2 linked regions of the Homo sapiens genome follow. The protein of the gene in region 2 interacts with the protein of the main gene of each other region in a pairwise test. Each region holds a gene or a part of one and is shown on either strand. Other genes may lie near its edges.

Region 1 (7,448 bases), on a different chromosome or scaffold from region 2:
GGGACCCCACCCAGACTCCAGCCCAGGGATTCCCTTCCCAGACCCTCTCTCCTGACTCCACAGTGGTCATGGGGGTAGGGCAGGACCACTGAGTTAGAAGCATGGCCAGGGCCAGAGAGGGTGAGTCTAGTGCCTTGTGTGTGTCCCTGCCCCTTACTGCTGTGTGTGTGTGTTGGGGGCGGGGATGCTCCATTGTCCCCAGAACTATTTGTCTCCACCCCCATCCAATAGTCCTGTATCTGAAACCTAAGAGGGCTCTCTTCAGGTTCCTCAATTCCAACATAGACATTCTCCTGCCCCAGAGTGCAGACTTGGAGGTCATATCTGCCCAGGTGATGTGGACAGGCAAACCCCCTATTAGAGCCTCAATTTCCTCAATAGCTAATGCCTAGATCCCCTGTGGTAGGCAAGATATCCTCCTCCCTCCTCCCTCCTCCCTCCCTCCTTCCTCCTCCTCATCCTTCTCCTCCTCCTCCTTCTTCTTCTTCCTTTTTGAGATGGAGTCTCACTCTGTTGTCCAGGCTGGAGTGCAGTGGCACGATCTCAGCTCACTGCAACCTCCACCTCCAGGTTCAAGTGATTCTCCTGCTTCAGCCTCCTGAGTAGTTGGGATTGCAGGCGCCCACCACCACTCCTGGCTAATTTTTGTATTTTTAGTAGACACGGGGATTTCGCCATTTTGGCCAGGCTGGTCTCAAATTCCTGACCTTAAGTGATTCACCTGCCTCGGCCTTCCAAAGTGCTGGGATTACAGGCGTGGGCCACAGAGACCAGCCAAGGCAAGATTCTTCTGCTTGCAAGTACAACAGACCCCACTTCAAACTAGCTTGGGCAAAACTAAAAGGAAGTTTCTTGTTTGTGTAACTGACAAGCCCAGGGTTAGAACAACAGGTTCAGGTATGGCTTGGAACCAGGGTCTCAAATGATGTCTCCAGGACCCAGACTTCCTCTCGGGTCTGATTTTCTCAGCACTGCCTTTGCTCTCAAGTAAATTCTTCCCTGTCACAGCTCCCATTACATCCTCCCATTGTGGCAGCCCTAGTGAGGGCTGGAAAAAAAAGAGAATGCTTTTTCCCCCGTGGTTAAACCAATAAAAATCCCAGACCAGCGTTTCATTGGCTGGATCTTGCTCAAATGCCCGCCTCTCTGCCCAATCTTAGACTCTGGTTGGCTGGGTCTGGATCATTTGTCCACTGTAAACCAATCCCTAGCTTATGGTTTGCTGGATCTAGCACACATTTTCTTTCTTAAAAGAAAATTGAGAATGTTACCCTATGAAAGGGACGGGTGCTGGTCAGGCAGCTTTGCAGATGTTTCCCACATGACATGATTGCTTGTGGGCCTCTGGTTTAGCGTGACCTTTTTCTCAAAGGAAGTCCAGAGCCTGGAGCCGCGTCTCAGCCCCACCCAAGCCCGGGAAATGTGCAACGCTGTGGCTCCACCCCCTGTGCCTGTCCATCAAGGCAGAGCCCACATCCAATTGGTCCGTCTGCTCCATTAGAAGGCGGTCCTATAGCTCAGTAACTGACTTCTTTCTAAGACCAAATGGAGCAGCTGGCATGAAGTCATTATCAAATTGATCTTTCTTGGAGACACAGGATTTGGCAATATTTTAGGAAACAGAACTTTATCCTCACCAGATCTCGACGCTCATTTCTCAACATTCAAGTTGTCTGAAATTTAACCACATATTTTTAACCAAAACATCATCACTTTCTGCACATAAGACAGTCTTATACTTGTTTTTTCTTCTTTTCTTCTTCCTTCCTTCCTTCTTTCTTCTTTCTTCTTTTTTCTTTTTTTTTTTTTTTTTTTGACGGAGTTTTGCTCTTGTTGCCCAGGCTGGAGTGCAATGGCGCGATCTCGGCTCACTGCAACCTCCACCTCCCGGGTTCAAGTGATTCTCCTGTCTCAGCCTCCCGAGTGGCTGAGATTACAGGCGCCTGCCACCACGCCCAGTTAATTTTTGCATTTTTAGTAGAGACAGGGTTTTATCATATTGGTCAGGCTGGTGTCTCTAACTCCTGACCTCAGGTGATCCGCCCGCCTCAGACTCCCAAAGTGCTGTGATTACAGGCGTGAGCCACCACACCTGGCCAGAAAAAAATAAAAATAAAAATGTATGCCTGTAATCCCAGCACTTTGGGAGACCAAGGCTGGAGGATCAGTTGAACCCAGGAGATCAAGACCAGCCTGGACGGCATATTGAGACCCTCATCTCTACAAAAAATAAGAAAAATTAGACTGGGCCACGGTGGCTGATGCTTGTAATCCCAGCACTTTGGGAGGCCAAGGCGGGTAGATCACGTGAAGTCAGGAGTTCGAGACCAGCCTGACCAACATGGGGAAACCCCGTCTCTACTAAAAATACAAAATTAGCCGGGGGTGGTGGTGCATGCCTGTAATCCCAGCTACTTGGGAGGCTGAGGCAGGAGAATGACTTGAACCTGGGATGCGGAGGTTGCAGTGAGCTGAGATAGCGTCATTGCACTCCAGCCTGGGTGACAAGCACAAAACTCCATCTCAAAAAAGGAGAAAAATTAGCCAGGTGAAGTCGTGCCCACCTGTAATTTCAGCTACTCGGGAAGCCGAGGACGAAGGATTACTTGAGCCAGGGAGGTCAAAGCTGCAGTGAGCCATGATCACGCTGCTGCACCCCGGCCTGGGCAACAGAGTGAAACCCTGTCTCAAAAAAAAATTATTAAAAAACATTTAAAGAGACAGGGTCTTGCTATGTTGCTCACGCTGGTCTCAAACTCCTGGCCTCAAATGATCCTCCTACCTCAGCCTCCTGGGTAGCTGGGACTACAGAGCGAGCCACCATACCCAGCTACTTTGTGCCTTTTGTAACCCCAGTTTTCAAGATCAGATAAACACAAAGTGAACTAAGACACCTTCTAGACAGAGTGCGGGCATGTGAACGCATGCTTGTGTCTATTTTTCTGAGTGTCACAATGCAAATAGTATGCAAATGAGTTTGTGATGTGTGTCCGTGTGCAGACCTGTGTGTGTACATGTGTGAGAGAGAGTATCTGGGTAGATAAGCAGATGGATGGATGAGAATGAGAAACCTGGAGTTTCCAGGTGCAGAGGAAACTGTTCCTCCAGGGTTCTTTTTTGAGACAGAGTTTCCCTCTTGTCACCCATTCTGGAGTGCAATGGTGTGATCTCCGCTCACTGCAGCCTCCGCCTCCCAGGTTTAAGCGATTCTCCTGCCTCAGCCTCCTGAGTAGCTAGGATTACAGGCGCTCGCCACCACGCCCAGCTAATTTTTGTATTTTTAGTAGAGACGGGGTTTCACCATGTTAGCCAGGCTGGTTTCAAACTCCTGACCTCAGATGATCCACCCACCTCAGCCTCCCAGAGTGCTGGGATTACAGGCGTGAGCCACCGCACCCAGCCTCCTCCAGGGTTGTATAAAAGCAGGGGATTTGGGGAGGGAGGGAAGGATGTGGGTCTGTCCTCAGTCCCAGATGTGGGTGTGGCGTTCCAGTGGTTAGTTCCCGTTGCCTCACATCTGTGCTTTTCCTCCACGGGGACTTGTAGAAGTAGAAGAACTTCTTGGGGGTGGAGCTGAGGGGTGGAGCTGAGGCTGGAGGGAGGAAGGTGTGGGGGGACCCAGGGGTCCTGTCTCCAAGCCTGGTTGCTCTTACGCGAAAAGTTGGGACACTGAGGTGTCACAGCTTCTCTTTTGAAATGGAGAGGAGGTAGGAGGGTGAGGTCCATCCAGGTAGACACAGACACACACAGAGACCACAGCTTCCTGTAACATTTCCGAGTGTCGAATTCCATCTCCCGGTCTAGAGGTTTTTCTTCTTGGTCCTTCCTGAGACCTCTTGGCTCCCAAGAGCCTCTTGATCGGGGCAGGAATGAGGGTGCCCCAGGGTGCGAGAGTCGTGGATCCCTGAAAAGAGGAGGCTGCTCCCCCTCTTTCTTCCCCCCACCTCCAGATTTCCTCATCTGCCCACACCTTCCGGTGGGCGGGGACGTGTATGGACAAATTTGCGGGCTGGGGACCATGGAAGTGGAGGAAATCTACAAGCACCAGGAAGTCAAGATGCAAGCACCAGCCTTCAGGGACAAGAAACAGGGGGTCTCAGCCAAGAATCAAGGTTAGGGAACTCGAGGTGGAAGGGAGGGGTTAAGAAGGAGAGATTGGGGGGCCGGGGGCTTTTGCTCATGTCTGTAATCCTAGCACTTTGGGAGGCTGAGGCGGGAGGATTGCGTGAGCCCTGGAGGTGGAGACTGGCCTGGGCAACATAGGGAGACTCTGTCTGTAAAAAATAAAAATAAAAAAAGAAGGAGAGTTCAGATGGGAGAGGTAAGGGGTCAAAGGTGGGGGCCGGGGGCTCCTTCCCCTCCAAGATGTGTGGATGTGTGTGTGGATGTGTGTGTGGTGTGATCACTCAAACTCTCACACACCCGCTCCACTTAACCAAAAAGCAGATTTTAGCTTCTCACTCCTTATCTTTCACCCCCTACAATTTATTGAGTGCAAAGGGTTGGGTAAAACAAGATCCCGGATCCACTCTCCACACCACAGAGCTCTGAGCAGATCTCCAACCCCTCCCAGGTGCCCATGACCCAGACTATGAGAATATCACCTTGGCCTTCAAAAATCAGGACCATGCAAAGGGTGGTCATTCACGACCCACGAGCCAAGGTGAGCAGACACCCACCTGCTCACATCCCATCACCTTGGGAAGGGGCAGGTGGGCGGGCAACTGCAGGGCCCCCGGGGCTGCGTGGAAGGGAGGAAGCGATGGGGAAGGAAGAGGTGACAGCTGTTGACGTGCTAATGAGGTCTGTTGATGATGACAATGTTGGGGAATGCTGGAGAGGGGGTCTGTGATGGTGACGGTGTTAGATCGCTGAGGGTGGCTGGTGGTGGCAGTGTTGTTGACGATGATGACAAGCTGCATGACCACAGCTGCTGATGGTTTTGAGAGGAGCGAGGTGTCCATGGTGTTAGAGACAGTGAGGATGGTTTGAGTGGTGGTGCTGGCCCCTCAAGGTCACTTTGCTGCCTCTTTGCTCCAGTCCCAGCCCAGTGCAGGCCGCCCTCAGACTCCACCCAGGTCCCCTGCTGGTTGTACAGAGCCATCCTGAGCCTGTACATCCTCCTGGCCCTGGCCTTTGTCCTCTGCATCATCCTGTCAGCCTTCATCATGGTGAAGAGTGAGTACTTCTTGGGAGGAGGGTGCTGGGGGGCCTAGACTTTCTCCCTTGTCCTTCTCTCTCTCTCTCCCTGGGTGCTTCAAGGATTTTCCTGCCCCTCCTGAACAGATGCTGAGATGTCCAAGGAGCTGCTGGGCTTTAAAAGGGAGCTTTGGAATGGTGAGCGGAGGGTCTGAGGGAGACCCGTGGGGTCATGGTGGGGGTCTGGAGAGGGATGGATGCACAGACACCCCTGTTTCATGCCCTCAGTCTCAAACTCCGTACAAGCATGCGAAGAGAGACAGAAGAGAGGCTGGGATTCCGTTCAGCAGAGCATCACCATGGTCAGGAGCAAGATTGATAGATTAGAGACGACATTAGCAGGTGCCTGTGTAGTCTCGCCTTCTATGGGGGTTATTTGTCACCAATGCCCGGAGCTGAGCTGGGGGCAGGGGATTCAGGGGAGGAGAAAGCCGGGGTCCTACCCTCCCAAAGCTCAAGTTGTGGAGGGGCGATGGGTGTTACCATCTGGGTTGCTCTGTGGGTATTGAAAGGCTCCTGGGAACCCCAAATCCATGGGCTCTGCTGTACCCCAGGGTGGGTGTGGGGCAGGGGGGGTGCTTCCAAGGAAGGTGGGGGCTTTGTTTGAGGCTCCACCGCAGCTTGACTTATCTGTTCCCACCCAACCCTCCCCGCCCCCTAGGCATAAAAAACATTGACACAAAGGTACAGAAAATCTTGGAGGTGCTGCAGAAAATGCCACGTAAGTTGGCGCCCCGACAGGAGGTGGAGGAGGGTGGGTGGGGCTTCAGATTTAGCCCCAGCTCCTCTCCCAGGGGCGGGATCTGCCTCACTGTGGGTCTCTCCCCATCCCCAGAGTCCTCACCTCAATAAATGAGAGGACATTGTGGCAGCCAAAGCCACAACTTGGAAGATGGGGCTGCACCTGCCAACGAAGACGGGAAATGACCCCCCCCCCCCAGCCTAGTGTGAACCTGCCCCTCGTCCCACGTATAGAAAAACCTCGAGTCATGGTGAATGAGTGTCTCGGAGTTGCTCGTGTGTGTGTACACCTGCGTGCGTGTGTGTGCGTGTGTGCGCGTGTGTTCGTGTATGTGCGTGTGTGCGTGCGCGTGTGTGTGCATTTTGCAAAGGGTGGACATTTCAGTGTATCTCCCAGAAAGGTGATGAATGAATAGGACTGAGAGTCACAGTGAATGTGGCATGCATGCCTGTGTCATGTGACATATGTGAGTCTCGGCATGTCACGGTGGGTGGCTGTGTCTGAGCACCTCCAGCAGATGTCACTCTGAGTGTGGGTGTTGGTGACATGCATTGCACGGGCCTGTCTCCCTGTTTGTGTAAACATACTAGAGTATACTGCGGCGTGTTTTCTGTCTACCCATGTCATGGTGGGGGAGATTTATCTCCGTACATGTGGGTGTCGCCATGTGTGCCCTGTCACTATCTGTGGCTGGGTGAACGGCTGTGTCATTATGAGTGTGCCGAGTTATGCCACCCTGTGTGCTCAGGGCACATGCACACAGACATTTATCTCTGCACTCACATTTTGTGACTTATGAAGATAAATAAAGTCAAGGGAAAACAGCGTCGCTATGGGACCTGTTACTGGGGCAAGGGGAGGGGTTTTGGGACCTGGGGAGAGGGAGAGTCTGCACGTGACAATGACCCCGGGGCACCAGGGTGGGCGAGACTGAGTGCCCTGCGTGAGTACCTGTGCATCTGTGAATGAGTAACTCATTCCCTGTGTCTTCCCTGTGTCCCAGAGTGGGTGCCCCTGAGCATACAACATCTCCCTGAGTGTACCTGGGACCACGGATATATACAAGCCCTAAGCGTGTACCCACGTGTGTAATTGTGCCCGTGAGTGTATCTATGCCATTGAGCATGTATCCATGAGTGTACATGACCCTAAGGTACTATGTCCACCGCTCATGCATGCACTTGATTTGTTGTTGTTGTTGTTTGTTTTTGTTTTTTTGAGACAGGGTCTCGCTCTATCACCCAGGCTGGAGGGCAGTGGTACGATCATGACTCATTGCAGCCTCGACCTCCTGGGCTCAGGCGATCCTCTTGCCTCCGCCTCCCGAGTAGATGGGATTACAGGTTCACACCACCACACCTGGCTAATTTTTTTTAAAGAAGTGGGAGTCTAGCTATGTTGTCCAGGCTGGTCTCAAACTCCTGGCCTCAAGTGATTCTCCCACCTCCGCCTCCGAAAATGCTGGGGTTACAGGCGGGAGCCACCGCGGGCCACATGGATGCACTTG
Region 2 (8,154 bases):
AAAAATGCTCAACATCACTAATGATCAGGGAAATGGAAATTAAAACCACATTGTGAAACCACCTTACTCCTGCAAGAATGGCCATAATCAAAAAATCAAAAAAAAAATAGATGTTGGTGTGGATGTGGTGAACAGGAAACACTTCTACCCTTCTGGTGGGAATGTAAACTAGTACATCCACTATGGAAAACAGTGTGGAGTTTCCTTAAAGAACTAAAAGTAGAACTACCATTTGATCCAGCAATCACACTACTCAGTATCAATCCAGAGGAAAAGAAGTCATTATTCAAAAAAGATACTTGCACACACATGTTTATAGCAGCACAATTCACAATTGTGAAATTGTGTAACCAACTCAAATGCCCATCAATCAATGGGTAGATAAAGAAACTGTGATATATATATATATGTATATATATAAATATATACATATATATGATGGAATACTATGCAGCCACAAAAAGGAATGAATTAACAGCATTCGCACTGACCTGGATGAGCTCGGAGACTATGATTCTAAGTGAAGTAACTCAGGAATGGAAAACCAAACATCGTATGTTCTCACTGATATGTGGGAGCTAAGCTATAAGGACACAAAGGCATAAGAATGATACAGTGGACTTTGGGGACTTGGGGAGAAGAGTGGGAGAGGAGTGAGGGATAAAAGACTACAAATATGGGCCAGGCACGGTGGCTCACGCCTGTAATCTCAGCACTTTGGGAGGCCGAGGCAGGCGGATCACGAGGTCAGGAGTTAGACCATCCTGGCTAACACAGTGAAACCCCGTCTCTACTAAAAATACAAAAAAAAAATTAGCTGGGCATGGTGGGGGCACCTGTAGTCCCAGCTACTCGGGAGGCTGAGGCAGGAGAATGGCATGAACCCGGGAGGTGGAGCTTGCAGTGAGCCAAGATCGCGCCACTGCACTCCAGCCTGGACGACAGCGAGACTCTGTCTCAAAAAAAAAAAAAAAAAAAAAAAAAGACTACAAATGTAGTGCAGTGTATACATGGATGATGAGTGCACCAAAATCTTACAAATCACCACTAAAGAACTTACTAATGTAACCAAATACCACCTGTACCCCAATAATTTATGGAAAAATAAATTTTTCAAAAGCACAAAAAAAGAAAAAAACCTAATCAGTACTCTTCAGAAGTGTCAAGATAAGGACCCAGATTTTCCCAAATTAAAGGAGATGAAGGAGATACGGCAACTAAGTGCCATGTGGGATCCTGGACCAGAAAAAGGACATTAGTGAGAAAATTAGCAAAACTGGAGTAAGGTTTATAGAGTACTTGATAGCACAGTATCAGTGTTAGTTTCCTGATTTCAAGAGTTGTACCACGGAAGATGCAGGCATTACCAGCAGCTGAGGGAAGAGTACACAGAACTTTCTCTACTATTATTGCAGCTTTACTGTAAATCTCACGTTACTTAACAGTACAAATAAATGAAGAAAATTGGGCCAATGTGAATTTTGATTGTCATTGAGCCCCTCACCCCCCACAACACGTAAGGCCCCAGAGCCCAACACCAGCGTGCACTTTGCTCTTCCAGGAGTTTCACTGGCAGGAGCAGGGCAGGTGCGGCCAACATGACCTCTCATGTTTCTCACCCTGGGTGCTGTCCTGGTTCCAGAAACTCCGTGCCTCTAGCCTCCTTCCAGGACTTCTCCCCTGGCCTCTAGGCCTTTCCCTCTCTTTCCCCCCAGCCTGTAAATGCCTGTTCTTTGAGGTCCAACTCTTGGTGGCAGGCCTGGACCCCTCCTTGGCCTGGAGAGTTCAGATGGTCCCTCCTTGCTGAGGCCACCATCCACTTGTTGGGAGGAAATGCTCATGAGTCTCTTCCCGGCAGACAGGAAACCACCAGGAGGCAGTGCCCTGTCACCAGGGGCTTGCAGGACTGACATGAACCACAGGCTCAATAAAAAGAGGCAGAGTCAACCAGTACCCCAGCCACCCATGCAGCTGCTCCAAGGTGAGGGGCACACCCAGGGCCTGGCACGTAGGACTCATCAGAGCACGGTTATGTCATCAGTCTGGCAGGATGCCCACGCTGTGCTGGGGATGGTAGCCTTGGCAGAAACCTGCCTCTTAGGTGGGGTTTCAGCTGGAGCCACTCAGATCCTAGGCCCACCCTGCCTGATTCTCTTTCTGGTCGCCATCAATGGCTAACCCGTTCGCCAGTTTGCCTAAAAGTGGCTTGAGGGGGCCCAACTTTGCAAGCAGAAGACGAGAATGAGAAGGGCTGAAAAGTAGATGCACTTTCTATCTTTTCCCCCCTGCTCAGGGACAGCACTGCCAAATTCAGGGCAGGTAAGAAAATACCACCCACAAGCTAGATACTTCAGAAGGTGCTGGAAAAAGAAAACACTCCTTTGCCTTGATTGGACCCCAGGCTTGACTGTGCTCCTCCGTGAAGAGGATGTGGTACCAGCCAGTTCCGAGGGAACTTGTGCAGTGCGGAACGCTGCATACGCACAGCTCTGCAGATGGGAGCAGGCAGGATCCCCAGGGATCAGGGCCACGACTCAGTCGTAGGGCGCCCCAGAGAGTAACACAGCGACAGGTTCTCATTTGCAACCAGGGTGCCGCACACGACTGTTTTATGGCAGATGTTGCCATAGCTACCTGGTGTGGGAGACCCCACAAAAGTCAAAGTTCAAAGTCAGCGGACGTGACAATTAAGAAAACACTGGAAGACCTACTCTCAGAGGGAAACACAGTCTCCTCACTTCAAACCAGAAAGGCACAAATAGTTGGACAAAAGAAGCCGCGTAATTAAAATTCATGTGCAACATCTCCCTGGGAAGCCTGGATATTTTAGCGACGTCCCCCCAGGCCTCCACACTCAAGTGGGTTTTGTTTTGGAGGGAGGAACCCCCTTGGCGGCATAAGACGGGGCACCGAGTGGCATCTGCCTCTTGAGTACAGCTGCGCCCCGCTGTGCGCCCGGTGGGAGGCTGGCAGCCACCGCAGCCCCTGTGCTCGCTCCCCGCTCTCGGTCCGGTCTGGGTCTCTCTCGGCGCGGTCCGGTCTGGGTCCGAGGCCGGTCTCCCCCCCCCTCTCTGCAGGTGGCCCCTGTGCTTGCTGCCCCTCTCTCTTCTCGGTCCGGTCTGGGTCTCTCTCTTCTCGGTCCGGTCTGGGTCCGAGGCCGGTCTCCCCCTCCCTCTCTGCAGGTGGCCCGGGTCGGGGGTGCCGCACTCACCAGCTCGGGCAGGAAGAAGGCGAAAGGGATGGTGAGGAACAGCGCGACCCCCGAGGGCACGTCGGACGGGGCGTAGCTGGTGGCGGGCGGGTCGGGCGAGGCCATGCTGTCAGCCCCTGCCGGGTGCTCCGCGGCAGCTCGCCCGCGCGCAGCCTGTCAAATATCACCTCCTGCCCGACACACCCATCGGACGTCGCCTGGGAGGGAAAAAAAAAAAAAACGTTCCAGCCGAGCAGGTCCTTCCACTCGCTGCAGCCAGCAGATCCTCAGTGGGCGGCCCAGCGGCATCGGATGGCTCTGCCTGGCCGGCGGGGGGCACAGCGCTGGTGCAGGAGGGAGCAGAGCGGGAGTCTCCTCCTAGACCTTTCCAGCTAAGGAATCTTTGACCCCCGGAGCATGTTATTCCAGGGGATGCCAGCGACAGCCACTCCCCTGGGCCCAGAGTGTAGGCCCAAGCTGCTTGGCTACGAGGGCTGCGTACTGAGGACCAACAATGAGCCAAGCTATCTGCAGACAGCCCGGGTGCCCACCACGGCCTGCACGTGGCTGTTTTGCCCTTTTCCAAGTGAGGAGACTGAGAATCAGTGAGGTCAAGTCAAGACCACAGAGCTGGTTACTAACAATGCTGGGTCTTGCCCAGCTCCCTCCTTTTCCACTCTTGGGGACAGCTCTCAGTCCCCAGCCTCCCCTGGGAGGAGCAGCCCTCCCTTCCAGCTCATGCCCCTGGGACTTGGTGTTTCCTTCTTTTTCTGGATCCCTTTCCATGGTCCTCCACTCCTCTTTTCCTCATGGGGCAGATGAAGGCCCCCCAGTCTCTGGGAGAGGACCACACCGGCAGGCACCAGAGAAGGGCTGGGCTGGCTGGCTGCTGCCTCTAGTGGACAACCTCCTTCCTTCCCTGGCCTTCCTTCCAGCCAGTGCCTTGCCCCTAACTGGGCTTGAGACCAAGAAGTTTCTTCCTGACTCCTAGGCAAGTCAGGGAGCTGAATGCAGGGCTGTGACCCAGAGGCAAGCAACTCCTTTCACACCAAATACAAGTCCCAAAGGCTGAACCATTTTCCCCTCCACCTTTGAATTGGCGAACCTTCATTTTCCCGACCCGCCCTGAAACAGTCTGCTCAGGATGCTCCAGGTTAGGGTCCCTTCTTCCTGCCCCCTGCTGCTCCCTGGTGTGGAGAGCATGTGGGGAAGATTGTGTGAGGGCTGGAGTAATTAGAAGAGGCCATGTCTTGATCTCATTAGCAGAAACGGTGAATGCCAGGTCCTGCCCTCAGGGCCACAGGTGGGGAGACCAGCCAGCTTGGCCTTTGCCTGGTCTGGGGAGAGCCAAGGGAGAGAGGAGTTTGGACAAATGAAGCTAAGACCAAAGGCATTGCAAAGAAAGGCAATGAACCCCCCAGTGGATCTCAAACCAGACTGATCATCCCTTTTTCCCAGGCTACGGAAACTAGGAAGTAAGGGAGACCCTAATCCCACCTGCCAACCCCAGTCTCACCTACACCACCTTGTTTACAGGATTAATCCAAGCAAAGGAGAGATTTCTCCATGAATCCCACATCTTGCCACCTCTCTTAAAGGTTGCAAATAAGCACTGTGCCACTCTTACAGGCTGTAGGATACCTTTGACTTGCCCATGGACAACATGGCATAGTAGGAAAAGTTTAAGTAAGAAGAAAAACAACCTTCTTAGGCTCATATCTATGAAATGGAGAAAATAATACAACCCATAACCCCTTAGTCTCTTAAGCTGAGAGGCCCTGAGCCATTTCCACCTTCTGAAGCAATTAGTATATTAAGAAATGAAGATATGCCTTGGTCTTCTGGCTAAAGACCAGGGTTTTCATTTTCCTTCTCTGCTGTGCATCTCTTCTGACTGGGTCTATCTTCAGGACCAAAGCAATGTGTGTGTGTGTGTGTGTGTGTGTGTGTGTGTGTGTGAGAGAGAGAGAGAGAGAGAGAGAGAGAGAGAAACACAAATGTGAAAATTATTCCCCCCATGCTTTTAGGATCATGGTTCCTCTGATCAGAGACAAAGGTTCCCCTTTCTCAGAGTTCCAGGTACCTGCCTGGCTGCTACTTCCATTGCCACCACCACTGTCACGAGATTGCACAGGGGCTAAGGAAGGAAAGAATAAACAAACAAACAAACAAAAAACAGAGATTTTCTACACTCTCTCTGACTGTTTGGGGCTCTCTTTCCCATTCCTCAGACCAGAAACATGGATTCTTTTGGAGATGTCTTTGTCTGCATCCTGTGTACAGTTCTGGGTTTCAGGTGGTCTCTGACGCTGGCTGACAGGTACCAGAGGAAAGAAAATGGGAAACTCACCAACAGCTTAGTAGTGTTTTGAATTCTGGTTTCCTTCCCAAATATTCCTGCTCCTTTTTTTTTTTTTCTAGAATCCTCAGTTAGCTTCTCCATGCATTCTGTCCAGGGCTGTTAATTGCATTTCATGAAAGGAAGAGGAGGAGTATCCTTCTCTACTTGACCAGAGCCCAAATAGCAACATCCTGCTTAACTCTGCAAGCACTTTTCACTACCCAAGATTTCCCTGATTGATTAATTTGCCTATTGTTTGTCTCCCTGCCCCTGTCCCTCTCTAGGATGTGGGCTTAAGGAGAGCCAAAACTTTGTTCATGTGGTGAACCACAGCCATGTCCACCATCTTGAATACTGTCTGATACACAAAAGGTACTCAATAAATGTTTTTAAATGATTGAAACAGTCATGAAAACAGTCATAAAGACTTTGGAGACAACTGCTTCTCTCTTTTTTTGATTCCTATTTATTAAACTCTTTTCCCACTAAGAAATTGCTTTATCTATATTTCAGAAACAATTTACTAGTTGCATGAAAAAGAAGAGAGAAGCCAGAAGAAATCCAGAGATACTTGGGGGGAAAGAATAGACAGTTGTATCCATTGGGATTCTTTCAATAACAAAAGTTAGAAAAACCCATTCCAAATGGCTTTAGTGATGAAAGGAACGTATTACTTTAGGAAGTGAGAAGCTAAGAGGTAATAATGGCTTCGGGTGAGACTTCATCCAGTGACTTGAACAATGCCACTCAAGGTGGAGGTGACGTTACCAAGAGAGAAGTATATGGAGGCTGAGCAGCAGAAACACCAGATGTCCACTATAGTAGCCTCCCACTGTAGAAATAGGAGCAGAGCTCTCCCCTTTTCTGCTGCAAGAACACACATGTCCCACTGGCTCTCGCCTGCTAGACACAACTAGATTGCAACTATTATTTCTACAAATCAAGGTCTCTTTAACTCTCAAATGGGGTAGATAGAATGCACACACTGATAGACTCAGGAAGATGCTGTGATTAATGTTCGTAGCCATGAGGCAGAATTGAGTCTGGCTTCTTGTGTCTCTGGAGTTGGGCAAGTACAGAACAGTTGCCCGGAAAGAGGAAGGACTCAATGGGATAATGTCTGGGTCATCCAGAGATTCCTACCTGGAGAAGAGCTCAGAAAGCATGGAGACCTTTTTATTCCCCAAAATGGCCTCTTCGAAAGGACACAGTTCTGCAAAGTTAATCTTTGCTGGCAAAGTCAGATACAAATGAGCAGGTTAAGGTCCAGTCTGTCTTACAGAGTATCAGAAAAGGGCTAAATGACAGGCACACTATCAAAGTCCCAAATGTGAGCTGTATTCCATTAATGAGTTCTGTTTTATATTGCTGCACACAGACCTGCACGCCTCATTCAGTATCAGTCATCACTGAGCAGAACATCCTCGACCTCCATTTTCCTGCCTATGAGACAGTATAACCTATAGACTTTCACTTGCCATTCACTTACTATTTTTCTGAGACAAGGTTTCCCTGTTGCCCAGGCTGGAGTGCAGTGGCATGATCACAGCTCACTGCAGGCTTAACCTCCTGGGCTCAAGTAATCCTCCAACTCAGCCTCCTGAGTAGCTGGAACTACAGACCTGCACCACCATACCCGGCTAATTTTTGTATAGATGGGGTCTCATCATGTTGCCTAGGCTAGTCTCGCATGCCAGGGCTCAAGCACCCTGCCTGCCTTGGCCTCCCAAAGGTGTGAGCAACTGTGCCTGGCCCATTCACTTATCTTTATACCCATCCCTCTTTATCCAAATTGACTTGGTTACTGCATTCAAATATCAGAATTCAGAGAGCAAGTTTGAGTTTTGAGGGATACAGTATTACCAAATCCACGTGTCCTTGAGTTTCAGAGAGTAAATGTGGGAGTTCAAATAGTGAGGGATTCATTTGAAAAGGTATTTGAATCTAACTGGTCCCCAACAACAGACAGTGGGGTTGGGAGAGGGAGAGTGAGGATAGGAAGGAATGCCTGTACACTTACCATTGACTTCATGCCTGCCACGGGGCCACTAACAGCCCCAACCATAGTACTGTTGGAATTAGTTTTTGTGTTTGGCTGATTACTGTCCACCTCATGCATTGTAAGGACAGAGATCTTGCCAGGACTGTTCTCACTGTATCTTCAAAGCTCAGTGCTGTGCCTGGAACATGGCAGGTGCTCAACACTTGTTGAGTAAATGATGAATGGATAATTGTAACACTTAGATGCAAAGTGCCCTAAGTAAGGTTCTTTCTCTGCCTCTTTGTTTTGAGGAAACAGATCACAGCAGCTAGGTGACAGCTGTCTTTGATCACCTCCACACCCCAAGAAAGCCTCCCAACTTAGAATGCTTCACGCAAGAGGAAGCTGAGGCAGTTCACAGCAAAGGATATCCTATAATGCTGTAAATTGACAAAGCCCTCAACTGGCAGAGGACACTGCTGGCTTCCTCTGTTAAACTGATAGTTTCCCAACTGCTACTGGGTTGGCAAGTCAAACTTGCTCCATTTGTACACAGGGTTATGTATGTCAACTGGTTTTATGTGAGTTGCTCTGGCCTTGCGCATTAGATCACAAACACTGAAGACAGAGACTATACCTGCT

What was found. The genes of interacting proteins can lie anywhere in the genome.
Region 1: the proteins of MALL (region 2) and MCEMP1 interact in binary tests that used the Homo sapiens proteins (3 or more experiments, as listed by UniProt).

Annotation. Positions count from the first base shown.
Region 1 is NC_000019.10:7,673,064-7,680,511, forward strand, and holds MCEMP1 (mast cell-expressed membrane protein 1), read left to right. Parts: upstream 1-4,026; 5' UTR 4,027-4,057; coding exon 4,058-4,112; intron 4,113-4,573; coding exon 4,574-4,663; intron 4,664-5,040; coding exon 5,041-5,178; intron 5,179-5,286; coding exon 5,287-5,337; intron 5,338-5,427; coding exon 5,428-5,541; intron 5,542-5,860; coding exon 5,861-5,920; intron 5,921-6,034; coding exon 6,035-6,051; 3' UTR 6,052-6,766; downstream 6,767-7,448.
Region 2 is NC_000002.12:110,112,477-110,120,630, forward strand, and holds the start of MALL (MAL-like protein), read right to left. Parts: upstream 3,347-8,154; 5' UTR 3,317-3,346; coding exon 3,212-3,316; intron 1-3,211.